Linked DNA regions of Homo sapiens: region 2 is linked to region 1. Evidence: fine-mapped expression QTL. A gene starts in region 1. The other region holds a variant in brackets. All regions are shown on one strand. Distances are between the middles of the regions.

The links. PIP is the estimated chance that this variant, and not a neighbour inherited with it, causes the effect. A credible set is the group of variants that fine-mapping cannot tell apart.
Region 2: its variant is the best candidate, but not a certain one, in a credible set for the expression of ADAMTS18 in prefrontal cortex (CommonMind, PIP 0.61).

The regions. Positions count from the first base shown.
Region 1 is chr16:77,430,387-77,439,019 of GRCh38, forward strand. ADAMTS18 (ADAM metallopeptidase with thrombospondin type 1 motif 18) reads right to left here and starts at 4,648. Exons shown (of 23, transcript NM_199355.4): 1 at 4,220-4,648; 2 at 4,032-4,119; 3 at 909-1,225. The coding sequence starts at 4,309. RefSeq lists an enhancer at 4,344-4,844.
Region 2 is chr16:77,354,307-77,362,939 of GRCh38, forward strand. It overlaps ADAMTS18 (ADAM metallopeptidase with thrombospondin type 1 motif 18), which reads right to left. Exons shown (of 23, transcript NM_199355.4): 7 at 7,799-7,958; 8 at 5,012-5,117; 9 at 1,634-1,771. Among named protein-coding and RNA genes, the nearest start is that of ADAMTS18, 76 kb to the right of the region's middle. The variant C/G (reference allele first, on the strand shown) is at 4,869.

The DNA of each region.
Region 1 (8,633 bases):
GGAGTCCGCATTCACCCGTACCCAAGCCACCCCTCTTGCTTTGTGCCATGATGTACCATGTACATTACTCACTACATCCTCACTTGGGCTTTCTCACATTTTCCTTCTTCTGGCCATGCCAGAGCACAATCACCATGTGTCTCAACACACACAAACTCTTCTGTCAATTCAAGACACTTCTCAATCACAACACAGAATGAAATCAACCCAGAACAACATTTACCGCCTCGTATATTTGATTGAATCCTGAGAAGAGTATCATTTACACTGATATTCTTGGCCTGGTGCTCAGCAGATGAGGATTACATAGGGAGGAAATAACACTGGTCCCAAATGCTTTTAAAAGGTTCTGCTTCCCTGAATGCCACATTTAATCCTGCCAGCCCAGGAACACAGCACCCCACATTCTAAAAGGATGTCTTATGTGAGCAGGACACCAGCAACAGATTAGTTCAAAGAAGACAAAAGGCCTCCCTTCAGCAAAGTGAAGGTTGATCTTACCAGTGCTGCTGAATGCAATTTCGCATTGAAATACAGTTTTCCCATTTCAAAGCCATGTAGACGCATGAAGCTTGTTAGATTTATAGAATGCCTGGTCTCCCGGGACATTACAAAGCGAATGGCATCCATCAAGTTAATTTCCTTGGGGATCATCTCAAACATGGAGAATGAAAAGTCCCAGACCATTAAACATCAAAAGATTGTTCTAAATGGTAATTAAAGTTCTATTATATTTTCTTTTTCTGGGAGCACATTAGATTAATTCAATTGAGAATATTAGAAGTATCAAGGCTGACAGTGTGAATGTGTGGAGTTGGCTGGAAGAGCATTTATATTGCAGACATCTGTTCATTCAAGTTACACAAAACACGAAAGAGGGAGCTCAACTCAGACTGGGGTGTACTTACCAAGCCAGCACACGTAGACACAGCGACAGAGGAGGAGCTGTCATTTCTGATAAATCCCTGATAGAAGCATTGCTGCACCTCGGGTTTCTGAGTCTCTGAAGCACCATCTTTTCCAAGTACCTGGACAATAAAGTGACTGCTCAAAATCGCCGAGGGCTTAAGTTCTAAGTGCAGTTCCTGTCCAAATGCTGAAAATCGGTAGTGCAGGGAGCTTCTGGCATTCTGCGCCGATCGCTTTTTCCTGCCGTTGTGCAAAATGTCGTGTGAAATATATGACCCGGCTGAGTCTACTTCTACTGGCGTGACAAAGACGTAATCTGCAATGGGAAAAGTTCAGCTGTCAGCACCCAGAGCCCACAATTCCAAATGGTCTCTTTCCAGCAAGCTGGCAAAGAGCAACACAAAGCTCAAAGATATCTTTGTTCCTATTGCCTTGCACCTAGATCAAATATAATTCAGAGCAGCACAGGCAGCAGAAGACCTGTCTCTACAACTAACTCGGCCACAGTCATTTCTACAGGTGCCCGAAAGCCAAGCACAATTTTGATGAATTTCATGGATGTCTGTGGAAAAATGTAACACCTCTCATTGTCTGGAGAGAGATTTAGAACATTCTTTTGATGTTTAATGGTCTGGGCCTTTTATAATATTGGCCACAGAACCATTCATATATATAAAATTTAATTTTTTTGAAGATAAAGTTAATAAACATAAAACTACAAAATCGGGAAATTTCTTCAAGGAGGTTAATTTCTCTGTGCTTAAACTGAATCGGGAACATTTTGGCAGAGGCAGAGTTTACATTTCAAGTCCTAACTCACAGTGTGGGGTAGCCTCAGATGATATTTCAGATCATTAACAAGCAACAGCATTTTCATTTTTCCAATATTATTTATGTGTGATAAGAAAACTCCAGCACTTGTATCACCCTTAGCATTTTACTGTGAGCTTTCACAGGGATGATCCCATTTAATTGTAAGCATAAAATACAGTGCATGCACAAAAATGCCTCAAAATTGTCAGAACCCTCCTATATAGTCTGATGTATAAAATTGCTCAGGCATGTTGGTGGGGGAGTGTCAGATCAGGGGACACCTGGAAAGGCATGTTTAAAAATACCTTCACCACTGCTCCCTAGAGCAGTACTAATTGCTGAATGTTCCAAAGAGGAGGAGCTAAAATACAATTTGCTATTTGAAAAGCAAAGCCAGCACACTGTTTTCTTTCACCAAACATTGAAGCTGAAAAGCATCATCCCACAAAATGATTTGGAATATGCCCTCTGTGCATTAAAAAACAGCCTGCATTTCCACTTTCAAGGCACAGAATGGGAAACTACTTTGGAAAGTGTTTAGAAAGCTGTTGAATAATGACGAGGTATGTTTGAGTCACTTGGGTCCCCAGTTACTGGAGGAGGAAAAGGAAGAGAAATTTCTCTTTTCCCTAAACAGTCAACAACCTTCCCCCTCCTCCAATAAAAAAAAAAAAACTAAGGAATAGTGGAGCCCCTGTAGCTAGCAAAGATCAATGAGTGATGGCCTAATTAGGCTCACATTAAAAAAGAATTCTCCACAATAGACAATAATTTTCTTCTGTTTATGAACCATCTGTGACTTATTCCTTGGGCAGCTTTCATTTTTATATTCTTTATGTCCTCCCACTCCCATTTTTCTTCTTGACTCCCTCCTTTAACTAAAAATGCTGTATAATTGACATACATATTTTACAATAATGGGGGGAAAAGTTTTTCCCCTCTCTTAACCTTGAAAATCTGAGCCAGACATACAATATTTTTCTTCTCTTAAAAATCTGATACATTGCTTTAAAGGGATGTGGCTCTTGATTATGTGCAATTTCTTAGAGAAAGTCTACCTTCTCCTTCTGTCAAACTAAAACTTAACTATGAAAAAGATTCCTGACATATGCAGGAAGTCTGTGTCTCACCTTCTTGTCCCAAATCATCTGAAACTCTGCCTGCTCTTACTTGGAAGGCTCTGTAGGAACGTTATCCAGCCAGCCTTCTATGGAACCAGCCATCAAACGGCCCCAGACACCTGCTACCAGCTTGTTTCCAAGGGGAGAATAACAGGCTGTCGGTTACATTCGGTTCTTGATGGAAGAAGGGCAGTCAGTGTCCCCTGTAAAGAGTGATCTCTGATTGACCACTTCAGGAGGTGAGTAAGGGTGAGGTCCTTACAAGGTTGTGGCTGGGTCGGACGTGGCCTCCAGCCATCTGATCCTGATATAAGAATGAGGGGTGGTTTTAGAAACTGCAGCCTCTCTGTTTGGACAAAAGGTGAATCCCTTCTCCATGACTCCATCCTGCCCCACTCCCCATTCCCCTGACAAGAAAAGGAGATAACCTTGCAAAACTAAAAATTACAGAATTCTAAAGAATCCAGGTTGAGCTGTAAGGTTTTCCTAGACACCTTGCGTCAGGAATCAGCTGTTCTCCTGTAGCTGATGGGAAACAATCAAAACAAGGATTTCCCTCTGGGCTCCACTGGGAAGTTAATAAATGTCAGAAGTGAGGGATTTTCTGGAAGTTTGTGGCTGGCGAACGTCAGAAAAGATAGATAAAGGACTCAGAGACCTGAAGTCACCTGCTTTCCTCTCTCTAAAAGCAGCCTTAGACATCCGTAAAACAAGGGAAGCAGAAATGAAAAAAAAAGAAGAGATAGAAAAGGAACAGAAGTCGAGAGAAAAATGAGGAAAGATGGAGAGAGGAAAGAGGCTCACATTCTTTCATCTCCCACTAAGAATTAGCTTCCCCCAACAAGAGTTAGGAGAGGGAGGAAATAAGTAATTCCTTAGTTAATGTCCACTTCCCTTCGAATTTCTCACTGCAGTTAGGATTTTTTTTTTTTTCTTGTTCTTCTTAACAAGCCACCTGTGAAGGAGGGAGAGTATTTGCTTTTATGTGACTTGCAGCTCGGGGCGTTGATTCTTTTGATAAGTTCAGTCCTTGCCAACCTTCCCCCCTCTCCAAACAGGAACCATTTCCAAGACAGCGCACACCTGCCAGGTTAGGGGGTGCGCTTTTCCATCTTTTCTCTCTTTGGGGGAAGGAAGGGTCAAAGTGCTGCGAAAGGCCCTTCTTGGGGATGGGGGGCAAATACGAACCATCATTTAATCCGCTGGCGCCGCTGCTGCTGTCACTGGCTAAGGCCGCGGCGACCGACGCACAGCAGAGGCAGCACAGCTGGAGCGCCTGCAAGAGAAAAGGTGACATCGCGCGTGAGGGGCGCGGCGGGGCTGGCGTCGGGCGCCCCCTGCCACCCGCTCTCGGAGCTCCGCTCGGCGGCACCTGCCTTGGCCACGCGCCCCAGTCCCGCCAGGCCCCTCGGCGGGCCCGAACCCGCAGCCGGGAAGGCACACGCGAGCAGGAGGGCGCACTCCATGGTCAGGTGCGGACGCGGCGGCTGCGGGTGGCCAGACGCGGCAGGCGGAGCGCACGGGCGGCGCGCATTCTTTCCGCGGCCCCGGAGCTCGGCGCCCCAGGTGCGGCTCCAGGTGAGAGCCGCCGCCGTTCACATCGCAGCGGGGGCGCGCTGGGACCTCCCCTCCTCCGGCCGCCTGCGCGCCCTCCCTTCTCCCGGCGCGGGCCTGCCGAGCTGCAGTTTGCGGCACCCCAGAGGGTACGGGGGGCTCCCTGGGCCGGGACTGGAGCGCAAACGGTTGGGAGACTGTCGGTGTCTGCCCGCCCGTCTGTGCGTCTGTCTGTGTCGGTGTGAGCGTCTGAGGCGATGGGGAAGACAGCGCCAGCTGGCTCCCCCAGCGCGCCGGAGCCGAGCGCCCGCCTCTCCACCGCGCGGTGATTGGCGACCAGCGGCTCCCGGGCTCGTCCGAGCCCCCGGGCTGGTGCAAGGGCGTGGGATTCCCGGCTCCAGCTCTGAGGGAGGGGGCGAAGGGGGCGGGGAGGCTGGGTGGGAGTGATAGGGAGGGAGGGACCGACCGCCATGAGAAGGAGGGGAGCGCCCAGGGTCAGGCTTGGAAAACGTAATTTAAGCGCACTGGGAGATGAGTTCGGAAGACGAAAGGCTCAGGTGAGTGGCGCGACTTTTTCGCTGCCTGTGCAGACTTCTCATTTTCAACTCTTCTGGCAAAGAGTCAAGATAGCGTCCTCAACACCTCCTAAGTGCTGGGAGCTATCCCCTGCTGTATCGCATTTGCCTCAGGCCCTACCTTTTTCAGGTGGGAATTATTAATTCCTTGATAAAGATGAGGAAAAGGAGGCTCAGATGCGCACAAGCTGACCTAGCTTCCCAGAGTCAGCAAATCTGAGGCAGCCGGGAGGACCAGAACAATGAGCTGTCACTGTCTGCAGCATGTAAAAACTCATGGCACGCGGGGGCCTCCCTCTTCTCCCGGATCTCTCTCTCTCTTCTTGACGTGACCGTGCTTCCCACTCTTCGAGATTGAATCTTGGCCCCAGATACCCAAACCCACAGAAATCAGTTATAACAAACAGCGCACGCCATCACTAGGAATGTGCATCCAGTTTGCTGTGTGCCTGTTCGTTTACTCAAGACATTTATTTGATCCTTTGATCCCTGTTTGCAGAGGTGAACAAAATACAGTCTCACGGGCCAGTGGAAACGAATCTGATTGGATAGCTCGACAACGGTAATAGAAGCAAAATGAACACAAATACTAAAAAGGAAAAGAATAGTCTCCTAAATTAGATGGCAGCAGAATCTAATTTAGATGGGATAAGATGTGTGTGTGTGTGTGTGTGTGTGTGTGTGTGTGTGGGTGTATATATACACACACACATATATATACACACACACACGCATACATACACGTGCAAGGCATCTGTTAGGAGCTGACACTTAAAATAAGGCCAGAGAGAGTGGATCGGTTTTATAAGGGAAGAGGGGAGTAGGATCTTGCATGTTAGGACAGGGGGCACAGCATAAGTGAAGGTCTCAAGGTAGTTAAGTGATTGCCACGTGAAAAGTGTTACAGGCCAGAGGAAGAAGCAAACACAGCAGTTGCTGGGTCAGCTGGACCTTGTAAGCTGGGGCGAAGCATGTTGGAAACCATTAGATTTAAATGAATGTGGGTTTGTGTATGTGTAGGAGGCAACATCATATCCAATAATAAAAAAATGTGAACCATTTTTTGAGCGAGTGTAGGGATTGGACGAGCTGAGGCAGGGTCAGAGAGAAACAAACCACGCAGCTGTTGCTGGCATGAAGGGGTACAATGACAGTGTCTTGCTTGGACCAGGGTAGTGGTAGTGGAAGTAGATGTATTACTCTGCTCAGTCCTGTGGGTACTGAAGTAGTTAACATGAGGTCTATGTCAAGCCTCGATTAAGTGATAGCTCAATACACATAGTCGGTTTTATGGAATGCAGCTGGGAAGAGGTAAACCCAGGCTGTAGCGGCAGAGAAGGTGATGTGTCTGCCTAAGGAACATGAAGCTAAGCCTCACAGAACATCAGGGCTAAACAAATCATTTGGGTTTCCCTACTTAATCTGGTTAAGCTCTGTGGCCTCTGTTTTATAATCTGTAAAATAGGAATCAACATGCTACATCAAAAGGATAGCCTGAGGGGTAAGTGAATATATTTTTCAAAGCACATTATAAGTGGACTTTAAGAAGTGATGGTGTATTTCTGTTATTTCATACATCCTGTGTCAAACTTGAATATACGTCAAAATCACCTGTAATGCTAGCTTAAAAATGCAGATTTCCAGGCCATGAAGCACTGTGATTCTGATTCCATGGATTTGGTGTAGGGCCCAAGCATGCATTTGTAGTAAGCACTTGTGGGTGATTCAGACACAAGTGACTTAAGTGCTTCATATGATTCCATGAAGAACTGGACACAAGAGGAAACTGGACATCAAAGACATGCAGTAAAACACTGCTGGAGGTCACATCACCAAGCAACGGACTGAATAAAACAGGAGACTGGGATTGACAGCACTGTCAGCGACATCATCAGGTGAACACTGACGGAACCTGGAGGGTGAAGGGCTTGTCCACACTCAGCTAAAAATAACCATGGCCCTGATTTGTGTCTCTCCATTAAGATACATTTGCATGAAATTGTCCATATTTTTCTGATCCTCCTCTTTTAGGGCTAACAATATAGGTTACTTGCCATGGTCAGGGCTGAAGTCTCGGAGAACAACCCTTAACTATGCTCTATGCTCAATTGTGGAATTTCTCAATCTCAGCAGTACTGAGATTTGGGCTGGATAATCATTTGTGGTAGGGGCTATCATCCTGTACATTATAAACATAGGATGTTTAGCAGCATTTCTGGCCTCTACTTCACTAAATGCCAGTAGCAGCCCCCAAAATGCAACAAAATGTTGTGAGATTTCCAAATGTTTCCTGGTGGGTAAAATTCCCCTAGGTGAGAACCTGGATAAATAGTACAGATTCCCAGTCCTATTCTGTGACATTTTTTTGTTGAGTGCCCATTTTTTTTTGAGAGTCTAGAGGGCTCCTCTTGAACCTAATGTAAGTAGTTTATCCTTAACTGATTTTACAGCTCTTCTTCCATACCCCAGTCAATCTTTGCTCTCCACAGATTCAAGTCCTCCATGATTGGGCACAGAAACTGAGACTCATTTCTTGCATAGTTCTAGACCTGGAAGATAAAAACTTGCAGTTCCATTCATTTGTAGATGTCTAGTCTCTTTTTTAGGGCTGATAAATACTTGCAAAGCCATAACTTCTGGGATGATTTTATACGTAGTTTTCCAGGAACTGGCCCTGCAATATGTATAAATTGTCTCTAGATGGTGACAGAGAATCATGAGCCCATGCTCCAGTCTTGGAGTTATAAACTGCAAAGTAGCTTTTAAGTTACTTGGGAATGTCAGTCTTACCTGATTTTAAAATGATAAATCTAGGACACTACAATGGCTATCTGAAGTTTGCAATAAACTAATGGGGATATGGGGGGGCAGAGCTCATCGCTGATGTGTTGTATTCTGTCAGACGTAGCCCAGAATATGCCACGTAACAGACATTCATAAATGTTTGTAAGAGGAGCAGAGGGAGGGAGGGAGGGAGGGAGGAATGGGGGGAAATTTGAGATAGAGAGATCACAGTGTTTCACTCTTAACCACGAAAAATATTCCTCCTTTCTCTTCCTTTAAAATCAATGGTACAGTTCTAGGCATTGATTTTCTTTTTCTACTGACATAAGCTTTTTTATTTTTTTATTTTTATTTTTATTTTTATTTTTTTTGCCAAATAACATTAAGATACTTGCCTCCTCCTAGACAGATCAAAAAATAAATGGCAAACCACGTTGCTTACTCACTTTCCTTTGTCCCTGGATTCATGAAGATGCAAACATCCCTTCCATGGAAAGTAAGAAACACTTACTGCCTCTTCCGGTGCAGTTGACTTTCTGTGCTATGACTGACTAACTCCTTATTTGCTCCTCTCCTTTTCCGTCAGCGAGTAGAGGGAAACTCTTCCTCCTCTAGCTGCTCAAAGCTGCATCAAACAGTGGGCTGGGTCTTACTGAACGGGTGTCCAGTACTTTCCTGTAGAAAACATTTTGATGTCCAAAGAGATAGATGTCCATAGTCACACATCTAAACCTAGAAGAGGGTAAAATAGAACACAAGGCTTAACTTATTTCAACACAGTAGCCAAAAGGAAAAGAGAGAGATGGAAATGGATTTACCTCCTTGAAGGCCTAAGACCTAAGGGCTACTTTCTGGTCAATGTCTCAGAAATGCAGTC
Region 2 (8,633 bases), 76 kb before region 1:
ATCAAGTATTTTCTTTTTTTAAACAGATAATGGAGCAGAGGTCAAAGATGTACTTTAACTCACAATAAGCCTTACAGACAAAAATAAATAACATTCCTAAAGAATCAAGAGGAATAATGAACTGGGGGATGAGGCAGAAAAATTTCCTTCAGATATGTTTGACTGTGACTTGTTGAGAGCAAAAATCAGTCCTGATGGCATGGATATTCTTAGCACCTTATCTCCACTTACTTAAATAATTAAAATGTGGTACCACCGAGAAGTTAATTATCATGGTGGTTAAGTGTAATTTTGTAGTGAGACAGATGGGGGTCCTAATCAACCATGCAACCAAGACCAAGTTATGTAGCTCTTACACAGCTCATGAGTGACAATGACTCTCATAAAGGTTGTTACACAGTTCAAATGAGAAAATATAACATGCTTCATAAAGCATAATAAGCAAAGTTAGCTGCTGCTGTTATCATTATTATAACATTTAACTACAAAAGCATTTAACTACATACTAACGGAAATTCAGCCTATGTTAAGTTGATCTTGATTTTAATACTTATTAATTGCATTCTTACATGAGTTGGAAAAAATAATTTTAGTCACCAAACCATGAATTTAAAACTAATAGGAAAATCTTCATGGCAAAGCTTACTAACAAAAAGTCTGTTGATTTTTTACCACCCTTTGGGCATATGTGGTTAGATATCTTCACGTTTAATATGCTTTGTGTATAGATCTTACTAATTCTTTAAACATTTGCAAATAATACACAGTGGTACAGGTTAAAAATAAAGTATCAAAAGTGTCAATTCCCAAAGAAATTTCACTAACATCTGTTCAAAGAGATATGGGATTAGCATCTAAGTGTCCTTGTGGGTCAATATAGATTATAAAGGTAGGATTGTGTGTGTGTGTGTGTGTGTGTGTGTGTGTATTTCAACTTTGGGTTAATTGTTTAATATGAATTAAATAGTACAACTTTCCAAACTCCTACTTTTACTAATGCAACTTAAGGTTTCTGTGTTATTAAAAGCATTTTATATAGCTACCATCTTCTTTGGCTATCATTTGGACATAAAGCTAGCTCCTGGCCATTTCAAACATAATAGTCAAAGAAGAAAATGCTCTATTCATTAAAACACAAACACACACTCATACCATTTGAGCATTTTTAAAATACTCTATGACACATTGATCGATAACATTGAAATAATTAGTCACAGTAAAAAGACAATATACCTAGCAGCCTCTGGAAGTCACAGGGGAGAGATGGTTGAGTAGAGATCCTAGAGTCAGAACAGATCTAAGTGTGAGTCTTCTGTCTGCAACTTACCAGCGATAGTACCTTATGCAACACAATTAACCTAAGACTTGATTTCTCAACTCTAGATTGAGGATAATAGTATCGCTGTGAGGATTGAAGGAGGAAATATGTGGAGAACATTTAGCACAACATTAGGCTTCAATCTATTTTTTTCAACAATGTCATCATCACCATCATCATTATCATCATCATTTGTCTTTCTGTTTATTGACAGGTCAAAAGGTATTTCCACTGAGTATTCGTTTGCAGGTCTATGGAGCACAATTCTGTCATCACTCCAAACCTAGGAGCACCCCAGGATTTAACCTGTCATACCTGAGGAATTTCTTGAGATACTGGCGGCTGCAGGAAGACCATGAAAACACTCCATTGTTTCCGGTCAGTGTGGGAGACATGATATTGCCTTCAGCCTTTCTGCAGGGATTCCCTTCTCCATCGTGAATCATACCAAAGCTGAAACAGAATGAAGAAAACAAAATCCTGCTTTGTGAACCCATTTTTTTGAAGGATAATCTGAGGAAGAATAAAGATGTATTGATCATCAACAAAACCAAGTGAGAGACAGAGTTATTAAAACTGGAAAAGAGAAAGGCAAATTACTATAGATTGTTATAAAATTCACACAGAAAACTTTAAAAATGCTGAGGGCTTTGTTATATTATTTCCTGACCACAGAATCAAAGAATGGTCTAGCTGCTACATGTTTTATGGGCTGGAAAATTTTGCTCAAGTTAAAATTTAGGTATAAGCTAAGCCAAAGTGATGGAACAGCCAAATTATTTAGTTTCAAACAGTAGAATTCTTATCTTGTCACCAACCACGGAACTATGGTAAAGAAGTTCAGAGTCAGTAGGAAGTAAGTACAGAGAGATGATGATTATAAGTTGTTTATGAACTGTTCATATATAAGGCTAGCATGGTATAAAAACTTCTCTCCAACTATGATCAATTTATTAGCTGAAATCACAAACTCTAATTGTAATTAAACTCTCTTATAATAAACATTTTTTTAACATGCTTGAACCCCTTTATTGAAGGCTATTAAATCTTGACCATTACTGTTATCTTTCAGATGTATTATATGAGAAAACTTTAATTTGTTTCATCACAGAAGGGTCTAGTAATTATAGAAGAAAAACTTTAGGTGGTCTACTGTCTAGAAATCATGCACATTATACCTGAAGAATTCTCAAATTTCCTGACAGGAAGAATAAATGTGACATTAATGTGCATACCCACATAGGATACATACCATAAAGACAAAGCTTACTTCAGGCGATGTTAAAGTGGTAGAAGATGGGGAAATAAGAGTCTTTGATCTTCTCTAAAAAATTCAGCACAGAGAAAAGTCTTTTCTGAAATTTTTTTTTTTTTTTTTTTTTTTAGGGATGCAGAGGACGGAAGGATATAAATATGAATTTCATCATTAATTTAAATTGTTCTTAATCTCATTATTTAAAAGAATAAAACTTGTGTCTTAGACCATATATTTATAAGGCAGATATGACTCCTATGTAAATAAATGTTATCCTGATATAATTTCATTTATAGAGTTCGCCTTTGAAAGTAGTCTATACCAAATAAATATGTTACGATAAAAGATATGACTTTTTTTGTGACCCATGTCTATAATATGGCCATTTTTCCAGCATTCCTTCCACTTTGTCAGGAAAATAGTAGCAGGGCAACTGTATGCTATCCTATCAGTGACTTCCTTAGGTATTCAGAGGTGACCACTCAAAAATAGGTATTGACTAACGTCAATGTATACTCAGTGAAAGCATTTTCTTATCCTCAGCTTTTCCCAATTTAATTCTTCTTCTCACCTAACCAAGACGTTAAGGGGATTTCTTTGGGAGACACCCTTTCTAAATATATTTGTGAAAGTAAAAAACAGAAAGAAACCTATAAATAAAGCACGAGAAGAAACAGCAAGAATCCCAGAAACAGAGATGGGGTAGGAGAGATTGAAGCCATTACGCTAGAGGAAAAGAACTTACTTAGAACTTCAGTGGAATTTTATGTGCGTAAGAAAATCAAGTCGGAATTTAATTTTGAACTTAACAATCTTAAATTTAATTTAATAGCATTTTAGAAGATGATAACATATTTTCTTTAGCACATGCCAAATGCCATATAAATATCTCAGGAATTGTCTGTTTCAGAACTTCTTAAGTCCATGTTATTTAGAACTTAGGTATGTATTTTATTTTACCATCTGTCCTTCCCCCAACCTCTGACTTCTCTCCTGAATCCTACCTGAAGAATATGTTCTGCTTTTCCTTATCTAAAATGTTGGATTTTGATTTTGGATAATTTTAACACATATGCAAAGATAATGAAATTTTTCAATGACCAGTATTTTGAAAAGTGACACCTGTTCGGTTGGACTTCATGCTGGTAAAACAAACTTAGACATACATTTGATATGCACACATATTTTGTTTCCTGCTTTGTATGAGAAGCATTGTTCTTAGTGAGCATTTTCGCTTCTCCATTTACAATTTTAAAAATTGGCTTATTCATATCTAGGAAAGTGTGCATGTGTGTCTAAATGTGTGTGTGTGTGTATAATAATGTTGGAAATTTGTTGGATAACAATAACAACAATGATCAAGGTTTAAATTTCCTAAAGATAATAAATGTAGCTCATAGAAGATACTGGCACTGTCCGGGCGTGGTGGCTCACACCTGTAATCTCAGCACTTTGGGAAACCGAGGTCGGCAGATCACCTGTAGTCAGCATGACCAACATGGTGAAACCTCATCTGTACTAAAACTATAAAAATTAGCCAGGCATGGTAGTGGGCACTGGTAATCCCAGCTACTCAGGAGGCAGAGGCAGGAGAATCACTTGAACCCGGGAGGCGGAGGTTGCAGCGAGCCGAGATCGTGCCACTGCACTCCAGCCGGGGCGACAGACGGAGACTCTGTCTCAAAAAAAGAAAAAAGATAGCAGCACCAACATATAAAAATACCAACTATGGTTACTGAATGATGTTTGCTTTTAAGTCAAAAATTAACTAGATGCTTTGAAAATATATGAGTTATTTCCTGTATGTTGAATAAAATATACACACAAGTACACACACACAAACATCCTAAACTGGTATATCTGAAGAGTACTACACATTGAAATAATTATTTTGTAAAGTATTATACTTGTTCCAATGCAGCTGCTATTGCTCTAATGTTTGAAAATTCTCTATAGCGTTGTCTCCATCATAAAAGGAAGATTTAGTGACACCAATCAAAAGAATATTAAGTACATGCAATGTTGCCAACTAAAAGAATATTCAGTACATGCAGCAAAAGTTTTTTTAAAAAGCAGCATGCCATTATACTTTGGGAATTAATTTTTCTCCATGATTACTTCCTGTGCATAAAGAATCAGCTAGAAGTGTCTTCATTGCTGCAAAACATGAACAAAAATAAACAAATGCCTAGCAGCCCAGAGACCCCATCTGTGCACACGAAGGAGTACTGTGTGGCTATTAAGTGCTGCTGTTTAAAGAGAATGAAATCAACAACAGCTAGCCTTTAGTGAGCC[C/G]TTTGTATAGTCAGAAACTATTCTAAGCTTTACACAAGACTGATCCTCTTTGTTCTGCCTAAGTCAACAACAACGGTTAGAGGAACACCAATGAATCACCCAACTAGTTTTCACATAAAGTAGTGGTTCAAAGAGGCACTTACTTGTGCCCTGACTCATGAGCGATGGTGAAGGCAAGGCCAAGTCCTGTGTCCTCATTGATGGTACAACTTCGGTACTTAGAGCACATTCCACTGATGGGGGCAAACCCTATTGAAAGAGCAGTTTCAAATGTGAATCCAAAGGTTGCACACACAGATACATGATGATGATTTATGTCCTCAAAATGTTCTACACAGTTTTAGTTTAATAGATCAATGCATTCAGTGTTTTTGGAAAAAAAAAAAAAAAAAGATCTATAGTTCTTTGTCCTGTGTAATGATAATGTATAAATGCAACATTTCCTATTTTCTTGCTTTTGTTACATATTGTTATCAATTGATCCTTGTAAGAGCCCTGTAAGGTCAGTATGAGTACTGTAATTCCCATTTTACATTTAGTTTAGTAAGTCACAGAATATTTATATGCCTTGTCTGAGTTTATCATTCAGGTCAGAGCAACGGATAGAATGATAGCAAAACCAATGCAAAATGCTCACTGAACAGTGGCATTAACGTCACAGCTCAGGGTGTATTTTCCAAGGAAAAACACATATCCTGGTCTTTTACTAGAGCAGAAAACATGAAAATGTCTAAGCAACATGTGCAGATTAAATTCATTTTTCTCTGGTTCTTTATAATGTGGTAAGTGCTTCTGTTCCCAAAGTTACTTCCCTCTAAGAGCCATTATAAAAGCATCCCGGCCAGCCCTTAAGTCTATCTTCAAATACAATACAGTGTGTGCGAACATCTTTCTTTCCAGTTTTGGGTCCTAATAATCAGTAGAACAAATCTATGTACCCATCTAATATTAAATGCATGCTTGTGAATGGATTGTACCCACTTCATTGTCAAGACGGAAGTGAGATCAGCTGGGAAATCTAATACAAAGGCACAAATAAGGGGTGGGATCATTATCATTACTACCATCGTCATCGTCACTAAATAAATGGTTGCAAATTCACACACTGTGCTATATGTCTATTATATATCTGTGTGTGTATGTATTTATAGCTTAGGAAACCAAAGCTCAGAGAGGTGAATTAACTTGTTCAAGATCTCAGAGTCATAAATTCTACACTCAGGAATCAACCACAGACATATGGGAAGTCAAAGCCCATGCCCTTTGCATTAGGACACACTGCTTAAAGTAAGTGACCTTTTCCACAGTTGATAGAATTTCTGGTGTTTTGTTTTTTCCAAGCCTTTTAGTACATTTTGGTCTCTGGATAACAGATAACACTGTCTGCTTCTCAGAATCTCTCTTGAAAACAATGCACTGGATTATCATATGTCACTTTGCACATTCCAAATTCAGAATATGAATGGATATATACCATCTTTCATTACAAAAACCCTTTCTATGGAACAATTCCCAAAATCATTGTGTTTTTGAAGACTGTGATTAATGGTTAATTGTTAAAATAAACTTATTTATAGGACATAACAGAGAAACTGCAGAGAATTTGAGAAACATAAAAAATAAAATTTCTGCCCTGGCACAGTGGCTCATGCCCGTAATCCCAGCACTCTGGGAGGCTGAGGTGGGTGGATCATTTGAGGTCAGGAGTTCGAGACCAGCCTGGCCAACATGGTGAAACCCGTCTCTACTAAAAATACAAAAATTAGCCAGGTGTGGTGGTGGGTGCCTGTAAACCCAGCTACTCTGGAGGCTGAGGCAGGAGAATCACTTGAACATGGGAGGCAGAGGTTGCAGTGAGCCGAAATCACGCCACTGCACTCCAGCCTGAGTGACAAGAACAAGACACCATCTCAAAAAAATAAAAAAAATTCATAAAGTTTTATTAAAACACATCTGCATTCATTTATTTACATATTACTTGTGGCTGCTTTTGAACAATACAGCTGAAATGACTAGCTGCCACAGAGACCTGTGGCCTGCATAGCTTAACATATTGACTGTCTGGCCCTTCACAGAGAAAGTTTGCTGACTCCTGATTTAGACAGCCATCCATCAACTTTTAAAAAATGTTGAATTCCTATTATGTGCAATGGAATATACTAGAATATAGTATAGATATAAAAGATGCAATTCTTGCTATCACTGTCTTGTACAAATATGGAAGAAATGAGTACTTCAAAGTCAAGTAACTTCTAAAAAAGGCACTGTTACCTAGTGGCACAGTTAGGTACCATGGAGCCCAGTAAAATCCTCTTCAGCTACCTGATTCTGTGGTCATGATGCTTACAGAATAACCTACAAGTTTCTAGTTAAATAATGTATCTCACACCTCAATGATCATCAGTAGGATCAATAAAGAAAAATACAAGCCAGGTGAGGTGGCTCATGCCTGTAGTCCCAGGACTTTGGGAGACCAAGGCGGGCGGAACACCTGAGGTCAGGAGTTCGAGACCAGCCTGGCCAACATGGTGGAAACCCGTCTCTACTAAAAATACAAAAATTAGCCAGGCATGGTGGCAGGTGCCTGTAATCCCAGCTACTTGGGAGGCTGAGGCAGAAGAATTGCTTGAACCCAGGAGGCGGAGGTTGTAGTGAACCGAGATTGTGCCATTACACTCCAGCCTGGGCAACAAGAGTGAAACTCCATCTCAAATTAAAAAAAATACAAAATGAATAAACTAAGTGGGCTCCCCACATTCTAAGTTCAGTTAAAAAGAACAATAGTCACCACAGGGTACATTAGGTTACTCCATAATTTAAATATTATGTCTGTTTATTAAGGAACATAAGGGCTATCCATCATCCATAGAAAGTTTCCATACTGTGTTTTCAGCTAACAGGTGTGTGTGAAGGATCTGTTCATACCATACCTAGAGTGTCACATGGTTCATTCTTCCAAGAACAAATATCAAATCCTGTTAGTAAGATGGCATGATCATGTCTCTTGCCATTCTTTCCAATGAGGGCAGACTGCCATTGACAAAAACTATTCAGAGACTGGTCTGCATGATGGTTGATCAATAATCCTCCCTATGGGAAACCCACACAAATCAAAGTGTGAATTTGTCACAGAGATGAGAATGCTGAATCATTCCATTTGTACAGGCAAACACAGAAACATATTTCTAGGGAAAAAGATCAGTAAACACTTGAGCTAAGGTAGGAGACAGGAAAATCTCTATTTTAGGTAAATGCTCACAATATTTAAAGCAACTACAAAGTTTCTGTAGTGTGATTTATGATTGATCATAGTTCTACAAAAAATAACCTAGCATCAGTTAGAACACCTTTGTTCATCTTACCTAGTACTACCTTTATAAAACCGTTACAACTTTTAAAACATGATAATAAATTAATGATGAAGTTCAATGGCTTTTCCATAAAGCCTCATCATTATTTCCATAGATGTCAAAATTCCCAGCAAAGCGTCTGGCACATCATAGATTACAATCAATCAATCAATATAATGAAAATTCACTGAATGAATAAACAAATGATGATATGATTCCAAAGGATAAGAGAGGACCTACCCTTAAAATAATCATTTGTCAAATGTTTGCTTGGTCAAAGCTGTTGACTTGGCCAAGTTGAAGGTTTTTAGACAAGATCTTTAATTATCAGTTAATTAGGATGTGGCTGGCTTCAAGGTCCTTGGGCAACCTATTAGTAGGCTAAAGACAAAAGTGTCTCCTAACCAGCACACGC